Linked DNA regions of Homo sapiens: region 2 is reported to be linked to region 1. Evidence: microRNA targets listed by miRTarBase, many of them from high-throughput screens and not tested one by one. Region 1 holds a microRNA gene; the other region holds the end of a gene's coding sequence.
What was found. Region 1 holds the annotated microRNA hsa-miR-3682-3p (UGAUGAUACAGGUGGAGGUAG, at 3,897-3,917, opposite strand). A microRNA usually pairs through its seed, bases 2 to 8, with sites in the 3' UTR of a target mRNA and lowers its output. Matches are read on the target gene's strand: a 7mer-m8 pairs with bases 2 to 8, a 7mer-A1 pairs with bases 2 to 7 and ends in A, and an 8mer does both.

Region 1 (12,340 bases):
CTGCCAATTTATTTATTTATTTTTGTTGAGACAGTCTCACCCTGTCGCCCAGGCTGGAGTGCAGTGGCATGATCTTGGCTCACTGCCATCTTCACCTCCTGGGTTCAAGCGACTCTCCTGCCTCAGCCTCCCAAGGAGCTGGGACTACAAGCGTACGCCACAATGCCTGGCTAATTTGTGTATTTTCAGTAGAGATGGGGTTTCGCCATGTTGGCCAGGCTGGTCTTAAACTCCTGACCTCAAGTGATCTGCCCGCCTTGGCCTCCCAAAGTCCTGGGATTACAGGTATGAGCCACTGCGCCCCACCTCCAATTTTCTTAAACATGCCAAACACATGCCTATTTTGGGCCTTTAGTGGCTACTCCTGGAGCCTGGAAAGCTCTTGTCCCAACTATTTTCCTGGCTCAATCCCTAAGACTTCATTCAAGATGCTGCTCAAATATCTCCTAAGAAAGACTATCTCTAGTCTCCCTGTGTCAAAATCACATCCCCACCACCCCCCATACTTTCTCTGCTTTTACTATTTTATCATCTTCATTCAATGTATCACTGCCATAGTCCCCCCTTATCCTTGGTTTCAGCTTCCTGTGGCATATTTTGAGAGAGACCACATTCACATAACTTTTATTACAATATTCATTATTGTTAATCTCTTACCGTGCCTTATAAATTAGGCTTTATCACAGGTATGTGTGTAAAGGAAAAAGCATGGAATATATCGGGTTTGGCACTATCCCGGGTTTCAGATATCCACTGGGGGTCTTGGAACATATTCCCCATGGATTACTGTGGGATCCTGTGCTTGAAAATTACGTATTTATTATCTTCAGTATAATGTGTTATGGGGGTAGAAACTTCATTGTTGTGTTCACCAATGTATCTCAAGCTGGTACACAGTATTCAACAAATATCTGCTGAATGAATGAAACGTATTGCTTTATTATTTGGTTGTTCCTCTTATCAATATTAGTTATCTTCTAGAATGTGGTTTTGCTTTCAGTTCTACTTTGATATTAATACTGTCACCATCATTTTTTGTTCATGAAGGCTTGTCTACTTTTGCCTGTATCTTAATTTTTACTCTCAGTTTGTGTTTCTCTATTCCAAGCAGCAAATGTTGCATATATTTTCATGTTGTTTTTATTTATTTTTTATTTTTTTTGAGACGGAGTCTCGCTCTGTCACCCAGGCTGGAGGGCAGTGGCGTGATCTCAGCTCACTGCAACCTCCGCCTCCCTGGTTCAAGCAATTCTTCTGCTTCAGCTTCCTGAGTAGCTGGGATTACAGGCACCTGCCACCATGCCCAGATAATTTTTTTATTTGTGGTAGAGATGGGGTTTCACCATGTTGGCCAGACTTGCCTTGAACTCCTGACCTCAAATGATCCGCTCACCTCGGCCTCCCAAAGTGCTGGGATTACAGGCGCAAGCCACCGCGCCTGGCCTTCATGTTGTTTTTTAATTCGAATTGTCTTTTATATATGATATTATATATGATATTAAGCATATATATAAATTCTTTTATATATGATATTAAGCATTTCCATTTATCCAGTTATTTCTGTAATCCTACATTATGTTTTATAAATTTTGTTTTCTTAGTATTTCATTCCCTCTGCTATTTGATAAAACTTACTTTCTCAGACTACATGACATGCTAGCTAATGGCAAAGGGATAGGAAATGGGAAGTGGAGGACATTATAAAATACCAATCACAGCTTCTTGACCAACGGAAGCAAGCAAAGTCTGTACTAATCCCCATTTATTCTTTATCCTGGTGTGTGTGTGTGTGTGTCTATGAAACATTTTCAACCAATTTCTTCTTTTTACTCTTGATGATTAAATTTGTTTGTTGGTGGTAAATTTTATAATTTGGTCCTTAGGTTACAGAATATCACGTTGAGATTTTTGACTGAACTAGAAGAATAATGAACATCACTGAGAAACCCAGAGATTGATCAGACTTAGCATCTTCCCTCTGGAGGAGAGTATGCATTTTTTATTTTGTTTTGTTTTGTGACAGGATCTCACTGCAGGCTGGATTGCACTGGTGTGATCTTGGCTCACTGCAGCCTAGGCCTCCTGGACTCACTCAGGCGATCTTCCCACCTCAGCCTCCCCAGTAGCTGGGACTACAGGTACCTGCCACCATGCCCAAGTAACTTTTCTGTAGAAACGGGGTTTTGTCACGTTGCCCAGGTGGGTCTCAAACTCCTGGGCTCAAGCGATCCTCCCACTTCAGCCTCCCAAAGTGCTGAGATTGCTATGCAGCGCCTAGCAAAGTACATATTTTTGTTTAAATGAGAGAAGCTGCATTATTTCAAGAGGGAGAATGGTGGTATAGCTACTGCTGTTGTTTGGGAGTATGGCTAGAGGTATGTATAAAAAATGTTGACTACTGGCCGGATGCAGTGGCTCACGCCTATAATCACAGCACTTTGGGAGGGTGAGGTGGGTGGATCACCTGAGGTCAGGAGTTCAAGACCAGCCTGGCCAACATGGTGAAACCCCGTCTCTGCTACAAAAATTAGCTGGGCGTGTTGGCGCATGCCTGTAATCCCAGCTACTCAGGAGGCTGAGGCAGGAAAATCGCTTGAACCCAGGAGGTGGAGGTTGCAGTGAGCCGAGATTGCACCACTACACTCCAGCTTGGGCAACAGAGTGAGAACCCATCTCAAAAAAAAAAACAAATGTTGACTACCAAGGTGAACCTCTGTGGACAGAACAGATTAGAACTCTGCATCTCCTTTGAGTATACTTTTGTGTTAGTACACTTTCCAGATTTCCCTGAAGCTAGGGTTCTAGATGCAAACTTAGTTTCTCCATCTAACTGCATGGTGCCAGATTTTTTCTATAGCAGTGTCTTGTTGTTCAGCCACTTGCTTTGTAGGTGTCAAGAGAGTTTTTTGTGGAAATAGTAGTGGCAGCAACTTCCTCACTGGTGGACAACAACTTTAACAGTGTGTTCTTGAAGTCAAAAGTCCAAGGTAGGCTTCCTGACTTCCTCTCTTCTTGGTTGGAGCAGAAGTAGTAGCATTTATGGCTGGTCCGGCTGGTCATGTTTATGGTGCAATCTTTCCTGGAGACTCATCATAGAGCCCTATCTAACCATTCTGTAGACATCTAGTTTCCTATATTAAATGCTTTCCTGCTTATGTTAATGTTTTTTGATTCTTAAATCCAGACCCTGATCGATAAACCAAAAATTCAAAATTTTTCTTTTTCCAGCTAAATTTCATTTAAATGAGTTGCTCAAATGTTCATTTAGCCTCTTTTCACTGAGTAAGAAACTTAGTTTTGTAAATAGTCTTTGGCATTAACTATCCTTGATTAGTCTGAGCATATATGATACAAAATGTAACGCCTCTATTCCCAGCACTTTGGAAGGCTGAGGCGGGAGGATCGCTTGAGCCCATGAGTTGGAGACCAACCTGGGCAACATAGGGAGACCCCGTCTCTACAAAAAAAAAAAAAAATTTATATATAGTCAAACAAGTTATTTCATCTCTTAAGGCAAAGAGCTCTCTGTCTGTGGTTCAACACATTGTTATCCATTGGGCAAAAATGATCATTGCCATGCTCTGATAGTTTTAAAATGATCAGACAGGAAATTCATTATATTGCAAACTGGTGTTCAGAAATGTTAGGATTTTCAGTATTTTTATTTTCCAAACATTATTTTAAAAGAACATTAAAAGCATTAGAAATACAAATCTTGCCTAATGGTTAACATACGAACAATTATTATAAAATGTTTAAAATACGTCACATACTTTGCATCACAGTAAGCATCAAGAGAACTAATTAACATATCCTGATAATTAATCATATTCAACTGAATTCTCATTACTTTTAGTTCTCATTTTAGCCCTTATGAAGAGATAAGTTATATATTTCTACCTCCACCTGTATCATCATGACACCTTTATTATGATAACACAGGTAGAAGTAGACATATATAACTTACGAAGAAAGAAGTTATGTCTCTATAGATATAGAGATATAGATACGGACGGGGGCTATGAATCGAGCCCACTATGTATTTCATGCAATTTATAACAATAATTTTTTTAACTTTTCTTTTGGAGATTATTTTTTGATGAGCATAAAGAGACAATACCTCATATGCACCTGCTTAGTTTTCTTTGTGCTGTAATTTTTACCTCCCAATGATGGGCCTCATGCCAGTCAAATCATCTCAAACTCAAACGTCACACAGAAAACCTGCCATTTTAAATTTTATAAATAGAAATTACTTTTGTGTTAATATTTTATTGTATCACATTTGAAATGCCTAGCCAATTTTTGTATTTTTAATAGAGACAAGGTTTTTTGCATAGCCAAAAAAATAGATATATGCCTTTAAAAATGTGATGCTTGATTAATGTTGTCTTCATTATAAAGCTGTTTGGCACACTGGGGTAAATACCAGGTTTTGAATTAAGACAAAAATCTAATTCCTAATTTGCCACAATTCTTTGTACGATCTTGGGAAAGAATATTAGATTTCTTAATTCTTTGTTAAAAAGAGATAATAGGCCAGTGCACTGGCTCACGCCTGTAATCCCAGTACTTAGGTAGGCCGAGGTGGGTGGATCACAAGGTCAGAAGTTTGAGACCAGCCTGGCTAACTTGGTGAAACCTTGTCTCTATTAAAAATACAAAAATTAGCTGGGAGTGGTGGTGCGTGCCTGTAGTCCCAGCTACTCGGGAGGCTGACACAGGAGAATCGCTTGAACCTGGGAGGCGGAGGTTGCAGTGAGCCGAGATTGTGCCACCGCACTCCATCCTGGGCAACAAGCATGAGACTCCATCTTAAAAAAAAGAAAAGGGAAAAAGGGAAGGAGGGAGGGAGAAAGGGAAAGAAGGAGGGAGTAGGTAGGCAAATCAGTCTAAAAGGTGAACTTAAAAACAAAATAATTCGAGGCTGCCCCTGGGTGTGGCAAGAAAAAAATTTAGAAGAAAAAGAAAACAAAAGAAAATCTATGCCTATTTAAATCTCAAAAATAGAAATAACTGATCAATACTGAAAGGTAACAGTTATAAGATAAGGTTGAGCAGAGTTCTAATTGAATATCTATTCTGTCTTCTCTATACCTCTCATGACCCCTGTATTTGGGGAGAGCTGAGGGAGGAAACTATAAATTAAATGCCTTTCAGCTGGATGTGGTTTCTCATGCCTGTAATCCTAGCACTTTGGGAGGCCGAGGTGGGTGGATTACTTGAGGCCAGGAATTCAAGACCAGCCTGGCTATCATGGTGAAACCCTGTCTCTACCAAAAATACAAAAATTAGCCAGGAGTGGTGGCGGGCACCTGTAATCCCAGCTACTCTGGAGGCTGAGGCAAGACAATCGCTTGAACCCGGGAAGCGGAGGTTGCAGCGATCTGAGATCATGCCACTGCACTTTAGCCTGGGTGACAGAGTAAGACTCTGTTTCTACAAAAAAAAAAAAAGACTTTTACGCAAAGGAACAAAGTACCTTCCAATCTGCAATAATAACTCTTGAATATAACAATTTATAAAGATAGGTGTTGTATATTGATGCTCATCTTGTGTGTCTAACATTTAAAAACCTAGTGAGTTCAAATACTAACTGTATACTGAAAATATTTTTACAATAAAATATGAGTTCACAGTTGTTATGCTAGGAATCTCAGAGCATATAGTAAAATTAGTTTCAGGTATAGAAATACTTAAATCTATTTTTTCTTTCTGCCCATTTCCACTTTAAGATTAATGGGAGAGAAATAAAATGATTAGTTTGAAAATAGATTATCTTGAGAATTTTTCTACCATAATAATAAATAAAGACAAAAAAGAAGTCATTTCTAAATAGTTACTTGAATACTGTCAGGTGGTTAGTAAACTCTTCTCACACAGAAGGAAAACATAAATCAAAACATTCCCAGTCTTATCTGTAAACCTTGTTAAGCAATAATAAATATTGCCCAATGCATGACAGGAGTCCACACTGTTTTCCACAGAACACCGAGATGATTACCGCAGTGCCTTCTCTCCTGGGAACAGTGCACCTCTACCATAGATGCAGTCCTCTTCACTAGGCTTCTTGAATAAGATCATTCAGAAACAATTCACTTTTGGGCCAGTTGGGGTGGCTCATGCCTGTAATCCCAGCACTTCGGGAGGCCGAGGCAGGCAGATCACCTGAGGTCAGGAGTTCAAGACAAGTTCAAGACCTGTCTCTACTAAAAAATACAAAAATGAGCTGGGCATGGTGGCACACGCCTGTAATCCCAGCTACTCAGGAGGCTGAGGCAGGAGAATCACTTGAGCCCGGGAGGCGCAGGTTGCAGTGAGCAGAGATCATGCCACTGCACTCCAGCCTGGGCAACAGAGCAAGACTCCCTCTCAGGAAAAAAATAAATAAATAAATAATTCACTTTTAACAAGCAAAAATATATTTCTTTTCTTTCTTTCTTTCTCTTTTTTTCATTTTTTTGAGATGACATCTCGCTCTTGTCACCCAGGCTGGAGTGCAATGGCACGATCTCAGCTCACTGCAACCTGTCTCCCAGGTTCAAGCGATTCTCTTGCCTCAACCTCCCGAGTAGCTGGGATTACAGGTGCTTGCCACCATGCCTTGCTAATTTTTGTGTTTTTAGTAGAGACGGGGTTTCATCATGTTGGCCAGGCTGGTCTCGAACTCCTGACCCTCAGGTGATCCACCCGCCTCAGCCTCCCAAAGTGCTGGGATTACAGGTGTGAGCCACCATGCCCGGCCCAAATATATTTCTTTTCAAAAGAATTGTAAACCTACTCAACTGACATAAAACATGTCTATAATAAGAAATGGCAATAATCATAATACTATATTCTTAGTTGACTGTCCTATGAAAGAAAAGTACCTAATACCTGTGTGAGTGTTTTTGGTAAAGACAGAGTTATCACCTTTTCTGCCTTAAGAATATATATATTTCTGGCTAAGCACAGTGGCTCATGCCTGTAATCCCAGCACTTTGGGAGGCCGAGGCAGGCGGATCACCTAAGGTCAGGAGTTGAAGACCAGCCTGACCAACACAGAGAAACCCTGTCTCTAATAAAAATACAAAAATTAGCCGGGCATGGTGGCATGCGCCTGTAATCCCAGCTACTTGGGAGGCTGAGACAGGAGAATCACTTGAACCCGGGAGGTGGAGGTTGCGGTGAGCCGAGGTCATGCCATTGCACTCCAGCCTGGGCAACAAGAGTGAAACTCCGTCTCAAAAAAAAAAAAAAAAAAAAAAAAAAAAAAAGAATATATACATTTCCTTTAGAGACAGGGTCTTGCTGTGTTGCCCAGGCTGGACTCATAATCCCGGGCTCAAGTGATCCTCCTGCCTCAGCCTCCCAAGTAGCTAGGACTACAGGTGCATGCCACTGCACCCAGCTAACAATATATTATTTATTCAAATCAACCTGCTACCAACAAGGTGTAGTGTTCCCGATTTCAACACTTCAAAAAATCAAAATTTACAATTCAATTAATAAAAATAACACCTCAGCAAAAATCATATTTTCACATTCTTTAAAAAAAATCCAGTCAATACCTTATTTTGAAGTCACATAACACTGACTCAAATCATGATAATCGGTTGACTTTCTACTTTAACACAGTAGCTTCATTCCTGGCATCTATTTAAAGGCTCGGTACAAAAGACTGAGGCAAAGAGCAGGGTAAAAAATCTAAAACTTTCACATCAAATCTTAAGATGTCAACAAACTACAAAGCAAATCAACAGATACTGACACATCAGATGAAAGAAAACCATAACTGCCAACTTTTCAGTTGAATCTTGTAGGTTTTGATCCGCCACTGATCTCAAGTTAGAATAAAGTCCATTACTATCAGAAACAAAAACTGTTTACATAAGATCCTATAGCCTCCATGACTTTAAACGGAGGGGACTGGAATCTGCTTGGCTGAAGTGCTGTCATATTCCTGCACTAAGTCATTAGTGGTGTGATAATGCATGGCAATATATGAATTGGCAAATCCAAAAGAGTTTACTGGCTGTAAGTTACATGGGCTGCTCTCCTCCTGGGAAGGGCTGCTGTTATAGATGCTGTAGTAAGGTTCAATCCGAGTGTTGATGGGGGTCGAGCTGCTCTGACCACAGTGTTGATGTCCAGCAGAGATCTTGGGACTCACCATACTTTCTTTTGAATGACTTGGGCCACAAGCCTGGTCCACAAATTTCTTCTGTGGCTTTGGAGATAACATGTAGGCAGAGTTTGTTTCATGATGGGAGGATTTGTTTCTGTTGACTTCGAGGTTCCCTTTTCCCATGGCTCGAAGTCGAGTCTTTTGTTTGCAGCAGAAAAAACCCAGGCCTATGTATTGGAGGCACCAGAGCACTTTCCTTCTCAGCCCTGCACTGTTCCGAGAATATATAAAAGGGTTTAATCCTGACTTGAAAAATATAAGAGTAAATCCAAACAATTCAAACTGGTAAAGAATGAAGCTCCCATTGCTGGAGAGAACCACCTGTACCAAGGAAATCCCCAGTGGAAGACAGCACACCAGGACTGACAGCACAATGATCACACAGGTGACCACGGCTTTGGAATCCTTGGCAGTGGAGAGGTTGATGGCTGATACGAGCTGGAGTCGGCTTGCTGCAGGGGTGACCAGTTGGTTGGGACTCTTGGTATATCCACGGGTCTGAACGTGCTGCAGTTTGTTGTAATTCTGGTTCCTATACAGAGCCGGCATGGCACACTGGATGGGATCTCCACCTCCCTGCACAGGGACCCCCATGAAAGGCTGTGGTCTGGAAGCATCGACTGTGATTACAGGGGGGCACTTTCTGACTTGAGCGTTCTTCCGCAGGGTCTGAGCAATCATGATGTAAGAGACAGAGACCACAGCAACACAGAAGGTGAAGTCGACCACATAGAGAGACAAAATGGCTTTCCCTTTTCCAGCAATCAGACTGGACATGGGAAGACAGAGGTGGGACTTGCTGGTTTTCAAGGTAGCCAAGGTGGCAAGGGTGAAACTGGTGGCCCAGAGAAGCAGGGTGAGGAGTACGGTGCAGGGAAAGGAGGCCGTGCGATTAGGCTGTTTCCCCAACACCATCCGGAGCCGGTGCAGGGCGATCACTGCCACTGTCTTCAGAGACATGATGATGAAGCCTGAACTGGTGAGATGGAAAGTGAAGCAGAAAGCATCCGGGATACTACTGGCTGAGCTGAAGAATAACACAAAGGTGAACATGGGGGCTGTCACTCCACAAATGAAGAGGTCACAGAAGGACAGGTTCAGGATCATGAAATCAAAGTTGGTTCTGAATTTCCTGAAGGCTGGATCGAAGAAGGACAAGAAGACAATGAAGTTGCCATAGGAACCCAGGCAGAAGATGACCGCCAGTAGAAAAGTACAGGTCACCAAGGTGGCTGTGTGGATGAGATCCTGAAGACCCTCCTGGAGAGAGGTGCTGTTTCCTTCCTGTGAGTGAGGCACATGGAGCGAGGTGGCATTGGGGGCATCCTGAAGGTGGCCTGTTGAGTTCATTTTCGGAGAGAAATGTCTCCTTCTTCTGCTCCCCAAAAATACTCAGTGAGTCAGGGCCTCAGCTCACAGATGAGCAATATGTGACAAAAGAGGCCCAAGACAGATAAGCCTACACACAAAAATGCACACCCAGAAACAGAAAGGGATTAATGTAGAAACAGAAAGGAATTCATACAGTGATCTCATTATTAGTAGTAGTATTAGTACTAGTATCTCTCACCTTGAGAGAAAAATTTATTCATTTATTAGCAATGGGGTCTTACCATGTTGCCCAGGCTGGACTTGAACTCCTGTGCTCAAGCAGTCCTCCTGGCTTAGCTTCCCAAGTAGCTGGGACTACAGGCATGCACCACCAAACCCAGCTCTCTCTCTCTCTTTTTTTTTTTTAACAAAACACTAGAATTTTTCAGCTCTGATTTGGTGCATAGACAGCATTTCTCCTCACAAAGGCCAACACAGAAAAAGATACAAATACATTCATCCAGCTAATATTTAGTTTTATGACACAGAGGTTTTCAAACAAGTTTAAGTGTCACCTGAAGAGCATGTTAAAAAGTTTAAGTTATCACTTGGAGAGCAGATTTCTTGGCCTCGCCCCTTGTGATTCTGTTTGAGGGGTGTGCAGATGTTACTTTTAGAAACACTTCTGTGTCAGGCACTGAAGATACACAAGAACGTAATCTCTCCACCAAAGAGATGACAATCTAGTTGGAGATCAATCTAACTATGTAATAATTACAGCCTAATAAGGTTGCAGGGTGCTATGAGAGCATGGAAGGGGGGAACCTACTCCAACATGGAAAGGGAGCTGGGAAAGGATAAAGGGAGCTTTAGCAAGCACAGGCCAGCTGGATGAAAGGTCGGGGGTATGGAGTGGGGACAGACAGGCTAAGAGAAGTGGGGGTAGGTCTTTGCAGCAGAAGCACTGCGGCAAAAAACTGCATGTGCTTGAAATATAGGCTGGAGGGTATTGTTGATGCATAATGTGGCCCTTCACATAATTCCCATAAATCATTAACAAACCCTGTTTCGTTCCCTATGAAGAATCCTTTATTTCCCAGTATTTATAATTTTTCCCCCAGCTTGCAATTTCTTGGCCAATTAACTACATATTCTCCTTTGGAAAAAAACCTTGTGTAGGACTACATGTGAGACGGAAAACTGGAAGTAACCAAGGATGTTGGAATTATATTAGAAATTTACAAGGTGCAAAGCACCACATTGTAAAGTCTAAACTGCTATATAAATGTGAGTTACCATTATCCCAACAAGAATATCCTGATGGTGAAGCAGGAGGCATGCACCCATTCCTGCATTCGTTCGCTCAATTTATATTAATTATGTGCATACCATATGCCAGCATTACGCCAGGTGCTAGGTGCTACGATGAGTAAGGCAGTCTCTACTTTAAAAGAATAACTTCTTGCTCCTTTTTCCTAACTTTTTTTTTTCTATTTTGCAATGAGACTTAATGTGCACTCACACAAATCTACATTGTCCCAAATCCCAAAGTCCTGCAAGGGTTGGTGCCCAACCTGCTCCCAACAGATGCTTCTGGTGGGACCGACTAAGCTGTTCCTTGGAGACAGCACTATGTTCTTGACAACCAAAAAGGGTTTGCCTTAATCTAGAATTTTAGGAACAATAAGTGGCACTGCAGAGGTCCAGGGCTGATGTTCAGTGTACTTAACCACCAGCTCAAGCTGGATCCCAGAAGCCTCCAGCTGTTAACCCTTTAGTTGCCAGATCAAGGGGGTACAGCGGAATGAACCAGGTCAGTCAGGGATTACCTGGGGCTCCAATTAGCAGCTATGGACTACCCAATACAGAAGTCTCTCCACATTTAACAACAGATACAGCCATGCCAGTGACTATCAGACATATACCAGTCCTGGGAAATCCATATAATTGACTGGTGTCCTTAATCAAGGAAAAAGATAACTTAATCTATATTCTTAACATTCATATGGTACAGATCAGGACGATATGGTGAATTTGTCCACTGGAAAGTGAGACCAACTTTTCTATACTTTCCTTTCAAATAAAAGTTCCATAAGAGAAGAAAATCCTGAACTTTTGTTTCTTGATGGTTAGAATTTTTTAAAAATAGTACCAGATAGCTCTATTTCCACTTAAAGGCTGTATATTTGTTTCTGAACACTTTTGATACCTATATAATGAGAAAGACAATTTTTTTTTTTTTTTTTTTTTTTTTTTTGAGACGGAGTCTCGCTCTGTCGCCCAGGCGGGACTGCGGACTGCAGTGGCGCAATCTCGGCTCACTGCAAGCTCCGCTTCCCGGGTTCACGCCATTCTCCTGCCTCAGCCTCCCGAGTAGCTGGGACTACAGGCGCCCGCCACCGTGCCCGGCTAATTTTTTTTTTGTATTTTTAGTAGAGACGGGGTTTCACCTTGTTAGCCAGGATGGTCTCGATCTCCTGACCTCATGATCCACCCGCCTCGGCCTCCCAAAGTGCTGGGATTACAGGCGTGAGCCACCGCGCCCGGCCGAGAAAGACAATTTTTTACTGTTTTTAAAAGTTGCTAACAGGAGTATTACAGCTAATTTATGAAAAGGGAAGTAGAAGAGAAAACAATTTGAGGAGGCAGGAAGAGCAGGGAGGTGATACTGGTGTCTCTAACCCCCTTATCTCCAAGGGTTTCCTCTTTGGAGGTAGAGAGATGAAGAGGGGTGAAGAGGGATGCAGGAATTTGGCCTGGGGAAATTAGAAGAATGAGGAGTCTGGAATTAGGATGCTAAGACAAATGAAAAGTAACTAGGTAATAATGAAGCGGGATGATGGAAGTTATGAAGACCTCAGG
Region 2 (12,340 bases), not on the chromosome of region 1:
TTCTGTGTTGAGCATTGTTAAGAGATCCAGTGGTATTGATGGATCCACAGTCATCCATGCTGGCCTGGCAGCTGTCCTGGGTGTGGCACAGATGCCTGGGCCCCACATGTGTGAGAGCTGCAGTAATTACCTCCACCTGTTGCATGAAATGAGGCAGGTGTCTGTGCCAGCTACTCCAGAGGACACTAGTGGAGGAATTTAATGTCCTTAGTACTTAAAAGAGAATTGAGGACAAAATCGGATTTACAAAAAGAGGAAACAAATCAAAAAGAAAATTAAAAGGTAAAGACTGGTTACCCAAAGAGGTAGCTCTGTTCCATTTTCAGATAATTTTTCTTGTTCCACTTTTCTTTTAGGGGTTGGAGGTGGGTGGGGTATGGCCAAAAAAGTCATTAATAAACAAAATCAGGTCATTTGAGGTTCACCCTTTTTCTCCAGACACAATCTTCCTTGAAAAGAATGGTCAGAGGCAGAAACAGCTCATTGAATGCTATGGAATGTTCCTTAATCACCAGTGAAATACGTCTTTCTCACTGGGGGCAGATGTCTAGTGACTTTCTAGAAAAATGTTTATTCTCTCCTCTTTCTTCCCCCATCACCATACTTACTGCACTAGGATTTTATAAAGGTCAGTAAGATTACATGTAAGAACTCATTTGAAAAGAGAAAGGTATTCCATTCATCCAGTGCCAAACGAGTATAAGTAAGAATATGTGGCTTGAATTGATTGGAACTAGGAGTAATCAACACTTCTCAGAGCTTCACGTTTTTACTTCTAGTGTCAGCGTCCCCCTGTGCCCTCCCTCCACCCCGGAATCAGTTCATTTTCTCTCCCATGTTTTCTGGGAGAGTGCTAAGCCAATATCAAAAGAACAAAGCCCAATGCCATGCTGTTTCCTACATGGTGTTATTTGCCAACCTGTCTGGAACCATAGCCCACTAAGGGTAGCGATGGCCTCTTCTTCATAATTAAATTCTTTCTTTTGGTTTGTGTATATTAAAACTTACCTTTGTTTTGTGCCTAAATTTGATGATGACTTTATTCTGTGGCCTACTTTTCCTCTTAACCCAGTTTTGAAACATGTTGTGATACTAAGCTTTTTAAAGTTTGATGAGGAGTCTTAGGTCATTTCCTAGAAGTGGAGAGGTGGATTCACATCTATGTGATTTATTAACAAAGGGCTCTCAATAGGGGAAAAAGAAAGAGAGTGGGGGTAACAGGACAGAGAAGGGGAACAAGCCAAAATAGGGGGCTCCTTTATTTTTCCCTTTTTTTTTTTTTGTTTTGAGACAGGGTCTCTCTCTGTCACCCTGGTTGGAGTGCAGTGGCGTGATCACAATCCACTGCAGCCTTGACTTCCTGGGCTCAGGTGATTCTCCCACCTCAGCCTCCTGAGTAGCTGGGACTACAGGAATGCATCACCATGACCGGCTGTTTTCTATTTTTTGTAGAGATGGGGTTTCGCCATGTTGCCCAGGCTGGTCTCAAACTGTTACAGGACAGAGAAATATGTTACAGGAAAAGGTCCCAATCCAGACCCCAAGAGAAGGTTCTTGGATCTCGTGCAAGAAAGAATTCTTGCACGAGTGAGTGCTCAGTGCAAAGTGAAAGCAAGTTTATTAAGAAAGTAAAGGAATAAAAGAATGGCTACTCCATAGAGCAGCCCCGAGGGCTGCTGGTTGCCTATTTTTATGGTTATCTCTTGATGATATACTAAACAAGGGGTGGATTATTCATGTCTCTCCTTTTTAGAACATATAGGGTAACTCCCTGGTATTGCCATGGCATTTGTAAACTCTCATGGCACTGGTGGGAGTGTAGCAGAGAGGAAGACCAGAGGTCACTCTCGTCGCCATTTTGGTTTTGCTGGATTTTGGCCAGCTCCTTTACTGCAACCTGGTTTATCGGCAAGGTCTTTATGACATGTATTTTGTGCTGACCTATCTCATCCTGTGACTTAGAATGCCTTAACTGTCTGGGAATGTAGCCCAGTAGGTTTCAGCCTCATTTCACCCAGTTCCTATTTAAGATGGAGTTGCCGCCTCTGACATTTCCCCCCTTTCTTTTATAAGAGAACCTTTAATCCTAAGGGTTGCAGAGGGACAAAGATCCATCTTCTGTAACTTCTTCAGGCTGAATAGGGGCGATGATATTCCTGCCTAACTATGAGGGTCTCTTGCATTCAGGGTATAGAGGAGCTCAGTCAGAAAGCATCAGTATGGTGAGGGCCATTCATGACTCTTGAGTTTTGACAAGAGGTGATATCTGGAAGATTAATAAGTGTTTAGTTTAAGAAAACATTCAGTAAGCTTGTTCTGTATTCCTACACAAAGAGTATAGCAGTAATGTATTCCACAAGAGTAAAGCAAAATAAGTAAAGTTATTCCAAGCAAGCTAAATTAGAAGGCTTTCCATCAACTGTGCAACTGTTGAAACCAAGCTGATATGGGGTTGGCAGCTGATTGCAATGTGCCCAGAATTAGAATACTGATCCAGACTTTTACATTACCCATCCCTCTTGTTTCCTCTGAGCAGCAGTTAGAGATCACTGGTTAGTTCACAGGAATAAACAGGGTTAGCTTAAATTGCAGAAACAAACTTAAAAACAACTAGTGAGACTAGAATTTAATAACAAGTGTACCATAGTTCTTGAAACATAATAGTTCTCGCTCCAGTTTCCCATTTTTACTAAAGACGAATTATGGTAAGACTGATTTGCTTTATTATACTTGGCCTGATTATTTGTATAAAGTACAGCAAGGATAATTATTTTTCACACAGGCATTTTAATTGGCTTTGATGGAACTCTGTTTCATAAGGAATCTCAGATAAGACTTTTTAAAAAGCCGAGCCCTGCCATGGGTTTGTACCCTGAAATACCTATGAGTTAGGTAAATTCCTGTCCTTTTGAGGTCCCAAGATAACTTGGGGCTCCTGGACCTGTGAGAAAGTGAAATTCTTTACTTACCATAGGTCAGAAACCCTATACAGGGACTGTGTAGGCAAGGTATGAGGCCAGTTCCCCAAAGGGTTTTTATTGGCTCTACAAGTCAAGTTTGATTCCTTAAAGGAAAGCACACCATTCCAGTCAAAGCCTTGGTAAAATGACCCATTTCTCCAATTGTGTCCTGTTACAAAAGAAAACAGATTCGTATTGCATTTATGCAAATAAGTATATTGCCATAAGTTAAGAATACTCACAACTAATTTCCAAATTCTGAAGTCAGGTTAGAGAGAAACAAATATGTTCCAAATTTTGTTCACAGCAGTATGCTTTACTCAATTGCTACAAGCTATAAATAGCTCAAAAGAAAAGTTTCCTTGACTCTGAAAAACAAAGCAAAGCATGCTTCTCTGTTCCAAGTGTGCGGAGTCAAAGTATCCCTCCATAACTACTATTAGCCATCCCTTAAAGTATATTTCCTACCTAGTTATTTCACAGCAAAGCTGTCTCAAAATGCAAAGTAATTTCTGATACCCCCCAAACTCAAAACCATCAGATAACACAATACAAAACAGAACAGAGCATTTGATTTTGAGAGGGATCCATCTGCTTTTAATTCCTGGGGTTTCAAGATAAAAACAGGTTTTTTCCCAAAACGGAGTCTGTGACACCTCCTTTGTTTTTCCCAATGAGTCTGTGACACCTCCTTTGTTTTTCCCAAGGAGTCCCAGGCTACCAGAAGTTATCTTAGGGCCTCTCGTGTGTTCATTAAGAGTGGCAAGACAGAAAAAAAAAAAAAAAAAAAAAAGGAGAAAAATAATTCAGTTGACTGAGAAGAAAAAACCTTTTTCCAGAAAAACAAGTTCCAAAAAGAGAAAATCATTAATGGCCTTTTAAATATATCTATTGCTTGTTTATCTACTTTTAATTAAGCTGACTTCTAACCATAGTGTTCTTTAAAAAAGAAATACTTTTGGATCTCTTATTACCTGACTTTAACAATGCCAAGCGGCCAATATTTCTAGCTTCTGAACTCTACCAGAGATAACCTCCTAGGTGCTTAGTGAAAGGAAAATTTAAGACAGTCCATGGAGAAGAAGAGAATAGACAAGGTCATGCAGATATGAAACCAGAAATGGTAGGCGGGGAAATCGAACCCTGGCTACCAATATGAAAGTGCACGATCTTAGCTACTGAGCTATAGCAAAGCGTGGTCTCCAGTTCCTTTCCCAGGAAGAGTCTAGAGTAGTTAATTTTGAGCTTGCAAAGGCTTTTAACTATTTAATATGATTTTTAGAGCTATGACATGAATCCTAAAATTCCTATTTCCTGGAAGGTGGAGACCACGGGAAGGTACCACCACATGGTTAAAAGGTCAAGCTCCCAAGGACATAAAACAAGGTGGAGATTTCATCCAGTTTTTTGTTTGTTTCAGGGACCTGCAGCCAAGTTTATTACTGACCAGCTTGTGAGGTCATCCTGAAAAGCGGGCTTACAGGTATTCTAAGCCCATGTTTTATCCTAAAGTACCCCTTTACACAGAAAAACGAATTCATGGCACAAAATACACCAGCTTAAGACTAGCCTTAGAATTCTTTTTGGCATTAATCAAAACTTTACAGAGGACATAAACACTGATTTTTTCCCCCCATTCATTTAACTATTTGCACACAGAGACAGAAGCCAGAAATCTGACTGGGAAGAAATTCCTACCCTTTTGCCAGCATGCTAAGCTTCTGGGTTCTCTTTCCCTGAGGGGCCCTAGTGATCTGGCTTGTGGCACAACTGCCTTTGGGGGCCAAGCCGCATCATAAAGGAAAAGTATTTCTTTTTGTTCTGGCCAAAGCAAAATACGCGTAATAAAACATAGATATTAACCAGGCTGCTTAGCATCCAATATCAAACTGGCAAGGCTTAAATTTGCCCTCAGGTGGGCCCTGTCATCTTTAATCTAACCTCCGACTAGGAGTTTCAACATGTGGTCTCTGGGCAAGATGGTCGCCCTGAGTAATAGAAAAGAAAGAGAAAGGAGAGAGAGAAAAACATTGCCTGTGGCAGGGCGGGGAAGGTGAAATGATCAGGGAGGCCAGAGAAAGAACCACCCATTGCAGCGACACTAAAAAGTTCAGGTGGCTGCTGTCGGTGGAGCAAGGATCTTTTCCAGTAATCCTACCAGCTCTCAAATTTCCCTTGTTAGGGAGGAAAAAGCTCCCCATGTCCCAGGATCCTGTACATTCCTAATTCTGTCACCCATAGCCATCAGCAAAGTACAAGGGAGATTAATCCAAAGAGAATAGCAGTTAACATCCCATAGTGCCGAACCTGTTCTTAGCCGAGAGGGACTTTACCGAAGAGGGGCCTCTAACCCGCTAAATCTTAGAAGGGACTCTAACTCTCCTAAGTCGGGCCTCTAACCAGAGGTCGGTCAAGCATCCTTGCCTTTTATTAAGGGGGAGCCTTTAACCACCTCTATCTTAGGAGAGACTCTAACTCCACTAAGCTGGGCCTCTAACCCAATCCCATTCTTTACCCAGGTACCCCACCACTTACCCAAAGTCTTCCAATCAGTGCTGCAGTCTATTTCCTTTGTGTTAGGGGGTGTCTCCCCAGTATCGTCCCATCGTTCTCCAGAAATATGTTAGAGGACTCCAATACTTACCCAAAGGTAGCTGTTGGGTCTAGGTTTCTACACTATTGTCCCTTCGGTGGTTGCCAGAAATATGTTGCAGGACAGAGAAATGTGTTACAGGAAAGGGGTCCTGATGCAGACCCCAAGAGAGGGTTCTTGGCTCTTGCGCAAGAAAGAATTCAGGGTGAGTCTGCAGTGCACAGTGAAAGCAAGTTTATTAAGAAAGTAAAGGAATAAAAGAATGGCTACTCCATAGAGCAGCCCCGAGGGCTGCTGGTTGTCCATTTTTATGGTTATCTCTTGATGATATGCTAAACAAGGGGTGCATTATTCATGCCTCCCCTTTTTAGACCATATAGGGTAACTTCCTGACCTTGCCATGGCATTTGTAAACTGTCATGGCACTGGTGGGAGTGTGGCAGTGAGGACGACCAGAGGTCACCCTCGTCGCTATTTTGGTTTTGGTGGGCTTTGGCTGGCTCCTTTACTGCAAACTGTTTTATCAGCAAGGTCTTTATGCCGTGTATTTTGTGCTGAACTCCTATCTCATCCTGTGACTTAGAATGCCTTAACCGTCTGGGAATGCAGCCCAGTAGGTTTCAGTCTCATTTTACCCAGCTCCTATTTAACATGGAGTTGCTCTGGTTCACACGCCTCTGACAAAACTCCTGGGCTCAAGTGATCCGCTTGCCTTGCCCTCCCAAAGTGCTGGGTGGGATTGCAGGTGTAAGCTACAGTGCCCGGTCTGGGGGGCACCTTTAAACCAAGTCCCAGCCTTTGCCTGATCTTGCAGTAGAGCTCTGGAGCAAAATTATATCTGAGTTTGTTCAGACAAGTCAACTGGGCTTTTATACTCCTGCACCAGTGAGTCACTGGCTAAAGTCAATCCAGAGGGGTATAAACTTCTAAGCACTTTCAATTCTGTGGGTGCAGGTGAAGCCAGGCCATGGTTTGAGATGCAAAGAAGTGGCCTGGTAGGAGTGGGGTGGTGGAGGCTGTTTACTGACAGTGCTCACTACAGTGGAACAAGAACCTTTATTACTTCCCCTCAATATATTCCGATTTTTCTTTTTTTGACAAAAATATTTATTTTTCCAGTGGAGCCTCCCTACCTCCAGATGAACTAGTTGGAAATGGAATTGTTATGGTACTGAATCTACAAATGGATTGCACTATGTTCCATGCAAAGTTGACTTTCCTCCCTTCCCTTTGCCACATCCTTCAGAGTGCGGCAGTAAATTCAGAAAGTATCATCAGTTGTGCAGTTGAATGCAAAGGCTGGGAATGATTGATCTCTCCCATTAAATAAATGTTTAAAGAATGATATCAAAATTTTGAGAAAAGAACTGCAGTTAATTAAAACCCAGGAATAATATGTCTGCTTAATTAAGATTGGAGCTCCAGTGAGGATCTTAAAATAAACTATACTTTGGATTGATTCAGATAATCTTTTATTTTTGTTTTTGTTTTCTTTAAAAGTGGTATGTCAACATCACTTCATTTCTACATTTCAGCGTTCTGTACATTTCTTAAAAGGAAATAAGCAATGCTCAATGTACAAAGTAAAAACAGAAAACTAGAAAAATCTGAATAAAATGGAGCAAGTTGCCAGAGGTCATACAGTACAAATTAGTAATTAGATGTCATCTGAAGTGCAATACCACTGCTGTGATGATGAGTTAAGGAATGAAATAAAAATACTCTATTTTAAACAAACAGTATATATATATTTATATGTATATTTTTTACAGATAGTAGACCCAGTGATATCTGCAGTATTGTAAAAACTTATGTACAAATAACTTTTTTTAGACATTACATATACATCAGCACCGTAGTAAAAACAAAACCAAAACAAAACCACCATATTAAAATCTACCTATTAGTTGGTCCCAGTACTGAGCATTTGGAGGAAGCTTTTAAAAGATAATGGAGCCCCCCACCCCTGTCTGTCTCACTTCCATTAGCCACCTCCAGTTTCTCATCATTGCTTATATATTTATTTCCTGTACCTTTCAGGAAAAGGTAATTATGTTTTGTGTCTTCTCATTTGTTTGTTTGCTTTTTTTTGGTTTCATCTCTTTGATCCACTCAGTTTCCCCAGTGGCATCACTCCCCATTTGGGGAGTTCAGGGTCACCCTGCTGCCACCTCTTCGGAGAGGGCGCCCAGCCCCTGCCTGGGCTTCTCACCCACCAGGCACCTCTGGCCTTACATCCTGCCCCTTCCTGAGCAGCTCTACAACCCCGGGTACGCGGAGAGCAAGTCAAAGGCAATGTTTGCCTGCCGCCTCCTCTCCAAAAACACCTCTGCCCCCAGCTTTCCATGGCAACTCGCCTTCTCAGGACTGAGTGTGGCCAGTCCAACCCCACAGGCTCCGACTCTTCCGTAGTGATCTGCCTGGGAGTGCACAGAAGGCAGCCAGCGTCTAGGACACGGAGGGAGGAGGGGACAGGAAAAAAGCACACGCCACTCTCACTTAGGACGACACCGAAGCCACAAGTCCTCCAAAAGGGGGATTGGGAGGGGAGGCAAGGAGCCTTGTTGATTCCTTCTGACAGATTTCGCTTAGGGCAGATGTGCGTCAATTGCAGAGAACAACTGTACAGGACTTTGGAAGAGGACTACTTTGCCCATATGAAATAAACTACATCTCCTTTCTATCCAAATTTGTAAGGTGGAGCAATTGCTTTTTTAGCTCCTCCACCTCTCTGGGATTTTATATTTGTCTTTCTGATGAGTAGGGATGATGGGAAAGGTGGATTTTTAGAGCATCACTCCCAGGATTTCGCCCAAAGGGAGCCTGAACCAGTGACCTCCAGGCCACTCCTTCCTGGGGATATCAGAAATATCAGATGTGGCTCACAAAAAACCGACTCCCAAACATCAGAGCAGCCCTCTTGGTTCCAGGCAGATATTCATTCAACGCTACACGTTAGAGAAAGAAGACTCCAGTGTCGCCTTTGCATTTCAGGCATTGTCTAAGTTCTTCCTGCATTTATGTGGACTCTGCCCAAGGCTCCCTAAAGACATAAGCTTCACTTCTTGGATAGTCTGTAAGGAGAAGCAAGGGGAGGCTGGTGTGGAGGCAAGGAGGAATAAAGGCAGGGCTGGAGACAAAGGCTCCAGGCTGGCAGACACACAGGGTCCAGTAGGGGTTTCCCTGCCCTGCGGCCGCCAGAAGTAGATGTGACCCACCTGGATGTATGGGTTTTGTATTGGGCGCCAGCAGGCTCCAGCCCCACCTGGAGGGACTGCCACCAGGGGCACCAGCAGAGGGAAGCCGTCCCAGGACTGCCGGATGGACCCTGCTCCAAACTCAGCCTGCTCTCCTTGTGACAGCAGAGCCTTTGCAATTCCTGAGGGTCATCATGGGGCAGGAGACAGACAGTCCTGTAGGATCTGTGGTTGTCTCCTTTTGACAATCTCACTGTTCTTCGTGCCTGCCCTCCAAATTCAGTAGCATGTCTCAAAGCCTTACATCTCTCGGCACCCAGAGTTCAGTGCATTTCCAACCTGTGCACCTGGCCTGTGCAACCACCCAGCCTCTTCTGGGGGACTCACTCTCCCTGGCTGAGGCTCTGTCTCTTTTGTGTCTCCAAAGCTGCTGTCTCCCGACCTGGGGCAGGAGGGGCTGAGGATACCTCTCTTGGGTAATAGTCCCTCTCGGCTGAAGCAGCTCCTGCTGGGCCAGGCGATCACAGGGCATGCTGGGCAGAGGGGCTCTGGCCGGCTTCATCTTCCCACCTGCTCCTCCGGGTGTCTCCCTCTCTCGCAGCCGGGATCTGCATGGCGTCTCATCTCGATTGCTGTGTGAAAATCAGGTGAAATGAGGCCTGGTGGGGCTGTGGATTGGCACCTGGATCTTCCATTGTCAGCCAGCTGCAGTTTTGCTCAGTTTACGTGGGTCAAAAAAACAAAAAACAAGGATGGGTCAACATCCTGTTTCTTTTTCACTTTTTAAGCTTTAACCACTCGAGTTGTGGATCTTGGGGCCTCTCTTGATTAGGGGTTACCAAACAATTCATCAAGCTCCTGCATCCACTCGTCCCCTGGCCCGCCTTTGATGATGGAGTCCACAAGGTCTGCACCGTCCGGGAGGCCAGGGAAGGAACCCCCAGCTCCGTCGCCACTGTAATTGTATGACACGTCCTGAGGGGCATTCCGCTCATAGGCTTGGCTCTGGCTGCTTGGAGCAAAGCTGCCACTGGGTATCTGCTGCTGTGCTGGGGGCTGGCTGAACGCTGGCATGCCTGGGACTCCCTGGCTCAGGCCAGACATGACCATTGGCCTCGCCTGGCTGGTGCCTTGCTGCCCCGGGAGCGATGGCATCATCTGCCGACCCATGGCAGCTGGGTTGAGGGTCCTCACTGTGCCCGTGTTAGCATCCACGACTGACTGGCTCAGTCCCTGTGGGAAGTGCTGCTTGGTCAGTCTCGGCTGCCCAGCTTGAAGAGGGTAGCTGGCGCCATTGTTGAATGGTCCCAATTCTCCACTAGTCCTCCCAGGCATGCCCTGCAAGCTCCTCTGTTGCCAGCTTTGTGCTCCTTGCTGGACTGTTCCCATAAGGCTCTGCAGCCTTGGAGGGGCTTGGGGCCTAGGCAAGGCCTGGCCTACTGGCCCTTTCATCTGTGGATGTTGCTGGGTAATGGCTGAGTTCACCAGCATGCTCTGACCAAAGCCACTCACCATTCCAACCCCCTGCCCAGAGGCAGGTTGCCTCGGTCCCTGGGCTTGGTTATGTGTGATGCTCATGCCACTTTGGTTTGGATGCTGCAACATTTGGGTCATGCCTGTGCTCATATTGTACATTCCTGGTTGGCTGGTAGGCGTGGTGCTATAAGGGGCCAGTCCCATCTCCGACTGCGCAGCTGCGGTGGCCATCGTCCCAGGGTTCTGGGAGGGTCCTATTCCCATCATGCCTGCGTTCTGTGCCATCAGCCGTGACGTTCGCATGCTCTGGAGGGCTGCTTGGCTTCTTACGGCTGCTATATCCTGGGGAGAACCTGCAGTGAAAAAGAGGACACATACCACTCACTCTTCTCCATAAGCAATATACTGCAACAAGATGTTGGAATTTTCTTTGGGAATGACAAAATTCCTTTATATGAAAGGATCTACTCTGATAATAAATCTGTAACAAAAATGATTATTTTTCTGATTATAGCATATGCTGATTGTGAAAATTTTGAAAGTGTTAAAAAATACAGAGACAAAAATTAAAGTCACCTGAAATCCCACTATCCAGAGATGATCATTCCTATTCTTTTATTTGTATATAAATAGACACCCACAAAAATTGGGATCGTACTGTGCATGTGTTTTTGTAGCTGACTTTTCCACTAAACAGATCCTGATGTAATTCTTGTTTATACTTCAGAAGCAAATTATTTCGTACTCTTATAGGTATGACATCATCCTCAACCAATAAGATACTATTTTCTTTGGAGGTGAGAGAGAATCCACCTCTGGGGCTAAATTAGAAAGAAATGGCTGATCACTTTGTATTTTCTATTTGTGAAGTGGAACATGGTTCAGTAGAGAATACTATCAATAAAGACCATTAGACTAATTTCCCTTAAGACTTGAGTAGGATTTGAGAGGTTAAAGGCCACTGCTTCTGCTAAGCAGCTATTTTGACAGATAGGACATTTTTCGGATCCACTCTGTAGATTTCAACATGCTCCAGATTCTCTGAATCATAACTTGTCATTGCAAACTGGCCAGCTTCCTGAGCTAGAAAAAGAAATCATCCTGCTACGTGCGACTTGGCCATAAACTTTACGCATTTCTACAGCAAAGTCCATTCCTTCAAATCGGCAACGACTATTTCTCTCAGCAAATTGCTAACACAATTTTAATAATGCTGTTTAAAAGGTGGCCAGAGTGTCCATACCAAGTCATTCAACCTTAATTAGGCATTTGAGTGAGTCCTTCTTTACATGTTACCAGGAAATTTCCAAACAGCCAAGGGAATGGAAATGTCGCCAGTAGAACACCAGTCAACGTTGCAAAGGTCTAGGAGGTACACAAAAACGGATTTTTCTATGTCCCTGCTAATGATTGAGTCTATGAGAAGAAGAAAAATAGTTTTTTTCCTGGACATTTAAAGAAGGTGCAGCATGGGAGCCAGTCAATATTCTAAGCAAATTTGATCCCACCTGGAACTGTGATGAGAAACCAGATGAGAATAGTCTAACCTTGTTAAACCTGGCACCCTGGTAGATAACTGAAGCATGTTTTTGTCTTCCTGATGTGGCTATTGATTTCTGGGCTGCAAATATGTCTCCATAGTTTCTTCCTTTCTTTAAGAAAGAAAATTACTGGAATTTTGATTATGTCTCAAGTTTTTGTGGCTTGAGATCAATATCATACTGCATTGAAAAATGAAACGATTTCTATCAGGAAACCTGAAAGATCTGGGGGAAATCCCTAGAAATGTTTTCATATATTTTTTTAAGCTTCATTATATCTAAGTGATTTTTTGAAAAATCGAAAGTTCCTAGTAAAACACTGGAAGGTAGTATATACTGCAACTTGTAATATTGTCATGCAGTTTTGTGACCTTAACGACTAAATTTTTATCGGCTGCATGGCCAATAAGATCAACTGTGGTGAAATGGGTTATTGAGTTGTTTATAAAAAAAGTTTAAGGGAAAAATATTGCTGAGTCAGAGATTGATTGGATAGACCCAAATTATATAAACAGTCTGATGGGCTGCTAGAAATAGATGAAAGGACATCTATAATTTGGCCATTTTGGGGTA

Region 2: the mRNA of MAML3 is a reported target of hsa-miR-3682-3p. Seed matches in the 3' UTR shown: 7mer-A1 at 7,244-7,250.

What each region holds. Positions count from the first base shown.
Region 1 is chr2:53,845,240-53,857,579 of GRCh38, forward strand. MIR3682 (microRNA 3682) reads right to left here and starts at 3,966; the gene lies at 3,883-3,966. The region is part of intron 1 of GPR75-ASB3 (GPR75-ASB3 readthrough); the gene reads right to left. It overlaps GPR75 (G protein-coupled receptor 75), which reads right to left. Exons shown (of 2, transcript NM_006794.4): 2 at 7,673-9,626. The coding sequence starts at 9,517. The coding sequence ends at 7,895.
Region 2 is chr4:139,709,745-139,722,084 of GRCh38, forward strand. It overlaps MAML3 (mastermind like transcriptional coactivator 3), which reads right to left. Exons shown (of 5, transcript NM_018717.5): 5 at 7,009-10,579. The coding sequence ends at 9,579. It also overlaps a transcript of MGST2 not described here. Among named protein-coding and RNA genes, the nearest start is that of MGST2, 50 kb to the left of the region's middle. RefSeq lists an enhancer at 1,376-2,575.